Linked DNA regions of Homo sapiens. The protein of the gene in region 2 purifies or fractionates together with the protein of the main gene of each other region. This does not show direct contact. Each region holds a gene or a part of one and is shown on either strand. Other genes may lie near its edges.

Region 1 (3,820 bases), on a different chromosome or scaffold from region 2:
GAAGTGATCTTTTTAAGAGCATTACCTAAAATACATCAAGATAGGTTGAGAGAAAGTAAAGCATGGAAAAGATACACTAGGCAAATGTTCAGAGAAAAGCAAATAGAAACATGTTGATGATAGGGAAAATATGCACACCAAAACTAAAAACATTTTTAGTTCTAGAGAGGATCATTGTAATGAGAAAAAGAATAATTCACTAAAGAAACAAGACTTCTCTGACATGTGTGTATATGTATACATATACATGCATGTATGTATGTAATTGATAAAATTACAAGGAGAAAGTTAATTTATAAATGTTAGTACAATATTTTAATGGGATAAAGAAGTTTTGAATTAGAAGATACAGAATATTTGAATAACACAAATTAAATTAGTCCTTTACCTCATACCATACAAAAATATACATGCCAATTGGGATGAAAACCTGAATGGGAAAAGCAAAAAGCAAAAAAGCTTTTAACTGTTAAACTGTGTATACATAAATAATATATTATCTTTTGTTTTATTACAGTGTATGCTAGCCTCAATTTTGGCAGTAAGACACAGCAAACATTTGGTAGTCAAACAGAGTGTACTTCCTCAAATGGTCAAAATCCAAGTCCAGGAGCTTACATCCTTCCATCCTATCCTGTCTCATCACCTCGAACTAGTCCAAAGCATACATCTCCTCTTATTATATCTCCAAAGAAGTCTCAAGATAATTCTGTTAATTTCTCAAATTCCTGGCCTCTTAAAAGCTTCGAAGGACTATCAAAGCCAAGTCCACAGAAGAAGCTTGTCAGCCAAAAATCGTCTGATCCTACGGGTAGAAATCATGGTAAAAGTCAATACTTTGTTCAAATTTATTTGTGTTTGAATTAGTACTTTGAAGTTAATGCATAGGGCTGTTAGATCTTTAAAAGCTAGTAAACTACATTTTATCTGTCTGAATTTAGTAAATATTTAGGAAAATATTTAATAGTGTGTTAAATAAATCAAATGTATAAAATTCAATTGAAATTCTCATTTCTTACATTGTCACTTAAAAATCCTTTTCAGAACCAGGAAAATAATGATGCTTTTCTTTGTTTGTTTGTTTGTAAATAGAGATAGGGTCCTACTATGTTGACCAGGCTGTTCTCAAACTCCTGGTCTCAAGTGATTTCTCCCATCCTGTCTTCCCAAAGTGCTGGGATTACAGGCTTGAGCCACTGTGCTGGGCCAGAAAATAGTAATGTTTTATAATGAACATGAACAACATATGTTGTTTGAGAGCCTACTAACAAATTTTAGCTTTACAAATATAAAATGTCATTCATATGCTTATTGCAATTAATGCCTAATATTCATTTATTCAATATTTATTGAATTTTTATTGTATGTTAAAATTAATTTGAAACTTTTTTTTTTTGAGACGGAGTTTCGCTCTTGTTGCCCAGACTGGAGTGCAATGGTGCGATCTTGGCTCACGGCATCCTCCACCTCCAAGTGATTCTCCTGCCTCAGCCTCTTGAGTAGCTGGGGTTATAGGCATGCGCCACCATGCCCGGCTAATTTTGTATTTTTAGTAGAGATGGTGTTTCTCCATGTTGGTGAGGCTGGTCTCAAACTCCCGACCTCAGGTGATCAACCCGCCTCAACCTCCAAAGTGCTGGGATTACAGGCGTGAGCTACTGCACCTGGCTGAAACATTTTTTATTATTTGTTATAAACTAAAATATTCTTTTCTTAACAATAACCCACTCCAAAAATCATGAAATTAGCATATATAAGTTCATTCAGGACAAATTCAGTCTTAAAATAAAAAGTCGACTGAGCGTAGTGGGTCATGCCTGTAGCACTTTGGGAGGCCGAGGTGGTTGGATCCCTTGAGGTCAGGAGTTTGAGACCAGCCTGGCCAGTATGGTGAAACACCATCTCTACCAAAAATACAAAAATTAGCCGGGCTGATGGCACGTGCCTGTAATCCCAGCTACTTGGGAGGCTGAGGCGGGAGAATCGCTTGAACCCAGGAAGCGGAGGTTGCAGTGAGCTGAGGTGGCACCACTGCACTCCAGCCTGGGCTACAAGAGTGAGACTCTGTCTCAAAAAATAAATAAATAAATAAAAATAAAAAGATGTTGAAGGAATCCTCTGCGTCCCTCATGATTTTCTTTCCCCAGCCATTGATGTAAGATGTTTCACCTTTAAACTACCCTACAAGTCCAGTGTTCAATTTATGGCATATTCAGTCAATTTTATCACTTTCTCTTAGCACTATACTTTGATTCTCTTCTATTAATTCCTTTCTGTATTTGTTTATTGTACAAGATCAAATATTGTATCGAAAGCCGAGGCTTTATTCAGCTTGTTCTCCCCAGTGACCAGCTATAATGTGCTTTTTTTATTTTAAAACATTGTATTTTAAGCACTTGTGACTATAACTCCCTCTTCTCTAAAATTAGAAAAAGAAAAAGTAAAATATCTATTTTTCATGCAGGAGAAAATTCTCAAGAAAAACCTCCAGTTCAGCTTACACCTGCCTTGGTGAGATCGCCATCTTCCCGACGAGGTCTAAATGGGACAAAGCCTGTTCCTCCCATACCAAGGGGAATAAGCCTTTTGCCTGATAAAGCTGATTTAAGCACAGTGGGACACAAAAAGAAAGAGCCTGATGATATTTGGAAGTGTGAAAAAGATAGTCTTCCAATTGATCTTTCAGAATTAAATTTCAAGGATAAAGATTTGGATCAAGAAGAGGTTAGAACCAAATATTTTTAATGACTTAAAAATATTTGCAATTTTCTATAATATAGTTGCTATTTAAGGAAAAATCAAGTTCTTTTTATCCTATAATATCTTATTTCTAAAAATATGTTCATTATAGAAAATGTGGAAAATACCATGAATTAGTAGGAAGGGAATTTATCACGCCAGTTCCCACTACCAGAATAATTTACTGTTAACACTCTACTGTATTTTCTTCAAGTATTTTTTCTATGCATACATTATTCCTTTTTAAATTAAAAGTATGAATAATAATATAGCAATACACTCATGTACTGACCCTTCCAGTGAACAGTTTGTCATATTTGTTTCCTATATTTAAATAAATGAAACATAGCATAGTTCTCTCCCCAGTTCAACATCTCTTCCTTCTTCACCAGAGGCAATCACTATTACCATTTATATATGTCTTATGTATTTTTGTACTTTTTATATTAATATTATTTTTGTGTATTTACTTACGGTGTGTTTATACCATTGATTTTGGCTTATGATCAGTCTTTTGCAATTGCATACAGTGAACTGCAATGAACATATTTGAACCTGTCCTTTGTGTTTCTGTGCAAGCTTACTTATCTTTATGAAATTGAGATCATATTGTACACTCATCTTTGAATCCTAGATCACTTTGTGCTATAAAAATGTTACCAGTATGATAACTGTACATAATTATTATATCAGACAAGGAATGCGGTTGCTGTATTACTTTGGTTTCAGAGTACTATTTCCATAGATGCCTCCTTTTTATCATTTCAGTTTGCTTCAAGTCAGGTTAAAAAAAAAGTTTTATATTACATATATAAATGCAAATACTTAATTATGATATTTTATGGTCTTAGTCTGTTTTTAAGGTATAAGCATCAATCATGTAATGATAATTTGCTCAATAAAATAGAGTTAATATTACTGTATATTCATTTTTAACATATGTCTTTATGTTAAACACATGTAAAACTAACCTATAAAGTACCAAAGTTGGTTGTTAATGATTTAAAGTAATCACCCCAACTTCTGCTTGTGAAATCTTTCCTTTTTTTTTTTTCCCAACTCATTTGTATTTTACTAGTGC
Region 2 (3,820 bases):
AATTTATTGAGGCTTGTTTTATGGCCTGTCATATAGTCTATTTTGGAGAAAGTTCCACGTGCTTTTGAATAGAATGTGTATTCTGTGGTTGTTAGACTAAATGTTCTGTATATATCTGTTAGGTCCATTTGTTCCAGGGTATAGTTTAAATCCATTGTTTCTTTGTTGACTTTCTGTCTTGATGACCTGTCTAGTCAGTGGAGTATTGAAGTCCTCCACTATTATGGTGTTGCTATCTCATTTCTTAGGTCTATTAGTAATTACAAGTTTGGGAGCTACAGTGTTAGGTGCATATATGTTTAGGATTGTGATGTTCTCCTGTTGGACCAGGCCTTTTACTATTATGTAATGTCCCTCTTTGTCTCTTTTAACCACTGTTGCTTTAAAGTTTGTTTTGTCTGATATAAGAATAGCTATCCTGTTTGCTTTTGGTGTGCATTTGCATGAAATGTGTTTTTCCGCTCACATAAACTTAAAGTTTAGGTGAGTCTCCTAAGAGGGCAGATGGTTGGTAAGTTCTTATCCATTCTGCAGTTCTGTATCTTTTAAGTGGAGCCTTTAGGCCATTTACATTCAATGTTAATATTGAAATGTGAGGTACTGTTGCATTCATCATGCTGTTTGTTGCTTGCGTACTTTGGATTTGTTTTTTGTTTTTGTTTTTTAACTTGTATTTTTGTTTTATAGGTCCTCCTGTGTGATTTATGTTTTAAAGAGATTCTGTTTTGATGTGTTTCCAGGATTTGTTTCAAGATTTAGAGCTCCTTTTAGCAGTTCTTTTAGTGGTGGCTTGGTAATGGCGAATTCTCTCAGCATTTGTCTGAAAATGACTATATGATGCTTAGTTTTGCCAAATACAAAATTTGGCTGATAATTTTTTTGTTTGAGGAGGCTGAAGATAGGGCCCCAATCTCTTCTAGCTTGTAGGGTTTCTGCTGAGAAATCTGCTGTTAATCTGATAGGTTTTCCTTTATAGGTTACCTGGTGCTTCTGTCTCACAGCTCTTAAGATTCTTTCCTTCGTCTTCACTTTGGATAACCTGATGACACTGTGCCTAGGCAGAGATCTTTTTGTGTTGAATTTCCCAGGTGTTCTTTGTGCTTCTTGTGTATGCATGTCTAGGTCTTTAGCAAGGCCAGGGAAGTTTTCCTCAATTATTCCCCTAAATATGTTTTGCAAGCTTTTAGAATTGTCTTCTCCCTCAGGAACACCAATTATTCTTAGGTTTGGTCATCCGAGCTCTGAATTTCTTTCTTCTACTTGTTCAATTCTATTGCTGAGACTTTCCAGAGCATTTCATATTTCTAAAAGTGTGTCCACTTTCTTTGAGCTCTAAATTTCTTTCTTCTCCTTGTTCAATTCTGTTGCTGAGACTTACCAGAGCATTTCACATTTCTAAAAGTGTGTCCAAAGTTTCCTGAATTTTTGGTTTTTTCTTTAAGCTATCTATTTCACTGAATATTTCTCCCTTTACTTCTTGTATCATTTTTCTGATTTCCTTGCATTGGGCTTCGCCTTTCTCTGGTCCCTCTCTGATTAGCATAATAACTAACCTCCTGAATTCTTTTTCAGGTAAATCAGGGATTTCTTTTTGGTTTAGATCCATTGCTGGTGAAGTAGTGTGATTTTTGGGGGGGTGTTGACGAGCCTTGTTTTATTATATTACCACAGTTGGTTTTCTGGTTCCTTCTTATTTGGGTAGGCTCTGTCAGAGGGATTGTCTAGGGCTGAAGAGTGTTGTTCAGATTTTTTTGTCCCACAGGGTGTTCCCTATGTATTACGCTTCCCCCTTTTCCTGTGGATGTTGCTTCCTGTGAGCCTAACTGCAGTGATTATTGTCTGTCTTCTGGGTCCAGCCACCCAGTGAGTCTACTTGGCTCCGGGCTGGTGCTGGGAGTTGTCTGCACAGAGTGCTTATGTGAACTGTCTGTGGCTCTCTCAGCCGTGGATACCAGTGCCTGTTCTGGTGGAGGTGGTGGAGGATGCAGTGGACTCCGTGGGACTCCTTAGCTTTGATGGTTTAATGCTCTATTTTTGTGCTGGTTGGCCTCCTGCCAGGAGGTGGTGCTTTCCAGAAAGCATCAGCTGTAGTAGTGTGTGGAGAGGGACCAGCCATGGTGAGGGCCCTAGAACTCTCAAGATTATATGTCTTTTGTCTTCCGATACCAGGGTGGATAGAGAAGGACCACCAGGTGGGGGCGGGGCTAGGTGTGTCTGAGGTCAGGCTCTCCTTGGGTGGGTCTTGCTGTGGCTGCTGTGGGGGACGGGGATGAGATTCCCAGGTCACTGGAGTAGTGTACCTAGGAGGATTATGGCTGCCTGTGCTGAGTCATGCAGGTTGTCAGGGAAGTGGGGGAAAGCCAGCAGTCACAGGCCTCACCCAACTCCCCCACAAACCAAAGGGCCAGTCTCACTGTGTCCCCCGACCCCCTCAAACGCCTGCAACATCCCCCGAGTCTGTTTCCAGGTATAGGGCCCAGCTATGAAAGAAGACCTCCCCAGCTGCGAAAGAAAACGGCTTTAGTTCTTCCCCCACCTGTGGAGTCTGCAAGCCCAATTCATGCCCACCCCCCACCCCCCACGCCCAGTTCTGGCAAGGAAGCTTCTCGTCCTGTTCAAGTTGTTACAAAGTTCATCTAGAGAAGTAATTCTCCCTGTGGAGTTTTAACCCCTGCTCCTCTGGCCACCCTCCTGATGGATCCCTGTGGTGCCAGGCAGGGATGGGATCCTTGGGGATCCCACGAGCTCCCAGTGTCTTTCTGCTACTTCCTCTACCCATGTATTTCACTGGGCTCGGCTCTCTAACTTGACTCAGCCCCAGGTAAAGTCGGGAGCTTCTCCCGCAAAGACTTTCAGCTTCTCCAGTGGGGGTGTGTGTTCGGGAGAGGAGGGTCTCCCTTTCCCACTTCCACAGTTGGGTCACTCACAGTATTTGGGGTGTCTCCCAGCTCCTGCAGCAGCAGTCTGCTTTCTTCAGAGGGTCCTCTAAGGATTGCTGGTCTGTTCTTGCAGTTGATCTATAGCTAAAATTCACAATGCAAGCCTCCACATGCTGCTGTGTCTGGAGCTGCAATCTAGTCCTGCCTCCCATCTGCCATGGTCCTCAACTCCTATTTCCTTGCTTTTTTACATATTCTGCACCTTGATATCTGCATATCTGGTATAACGATCACTTCTTCCGATTTTTTGAATTTGCTTTCATATCTATGATGGTGGTTGGGTAGGCACTTTGGCTTTGATTCTGGGTATGTGCAGTAGTGTAATCTCTATAGACTTTTTTTTGGCCGAAAACAGTATCTGTGGTATCTGTAATTTCCTTGGTGGCTTAGGGTGCAGTTGTTCGTGGAGGCTGTGGTAAAGTTTTGTTGTGAACGGGGACACCAAATGGACCAGTCGTTAGGTTGCAGGATGCTAGCAGTAGGCTGAGCATGCCTGTCCTTGGGCCCCAGGGCTGTATACACTGGCATCAGTGGTAGCAGGTCAAGCCAGGCCAATTATTGGGCTTCTAGATGGCTTGCTCAGGTGCTGAGAATGGTGACAGTGGGTTGGGTGGGTGAGTAGGTTTTCAAGCCACTGGGCAGCAAACATGGGCAATGGCAGTAGTAGTAGTGGGACAACCCTCTGGGATCCAAGCAGCCAGTGGTGGTGTTGGCGGTGGCTATAATGGGCTGCGTGGGCCAGTCCCCAGACTTGCAGGTGGCATATGAGGGTGGGTGCCAGCTGTGATGGTAATGGCAGGTTGATTGGGCCCATACTCTAGGAGGAGTGCTCAGGTGCCAATGGTGGTGTCCTGGGCAGGGCAGTCCCCAGGTCCCTGGAC

What was found.
Region 1: the proteins of CCDC66 (region 2) and TOGARAM1 purify together in Homo sapiens (co-immunoprecipitation; one large-scale study listed by IntAct). This does not show direct contact.

Annotation. Positions count from the first base shown.
Region 1 is NC_000014.9:45,003,544-45,007,363, forward strand, and holds part of TOGARAM1 (TOG array regulator of axonemal microtubules protein 1), read left to right. Parts: intron 1-517; coding exon 518-823; intron 824-2,464; coding exon 2,465-2,724; intron 2,725-3,820. UniProt on the Homo sapiens protein: Involved in ciliogenesis. It is required for appropriate acetylation and polyglutamylation of ciliary microtubules, and regulation of cilium length.
Region 2 is NC_000003.12:56,608,996-56,612,815, forward strand, and holds part of CCDC66 (coiled-coil domain-containing protein 66), read left to right. Parts: intron 1-3,820. UniProt on the Homo sapiens protein: Microtubule-binding protein required for ciliogenesis. May function in ciliogenesis by mediating the transport of proteins like BBS4 to the cilium, but also through the organization of the centriolar satellites.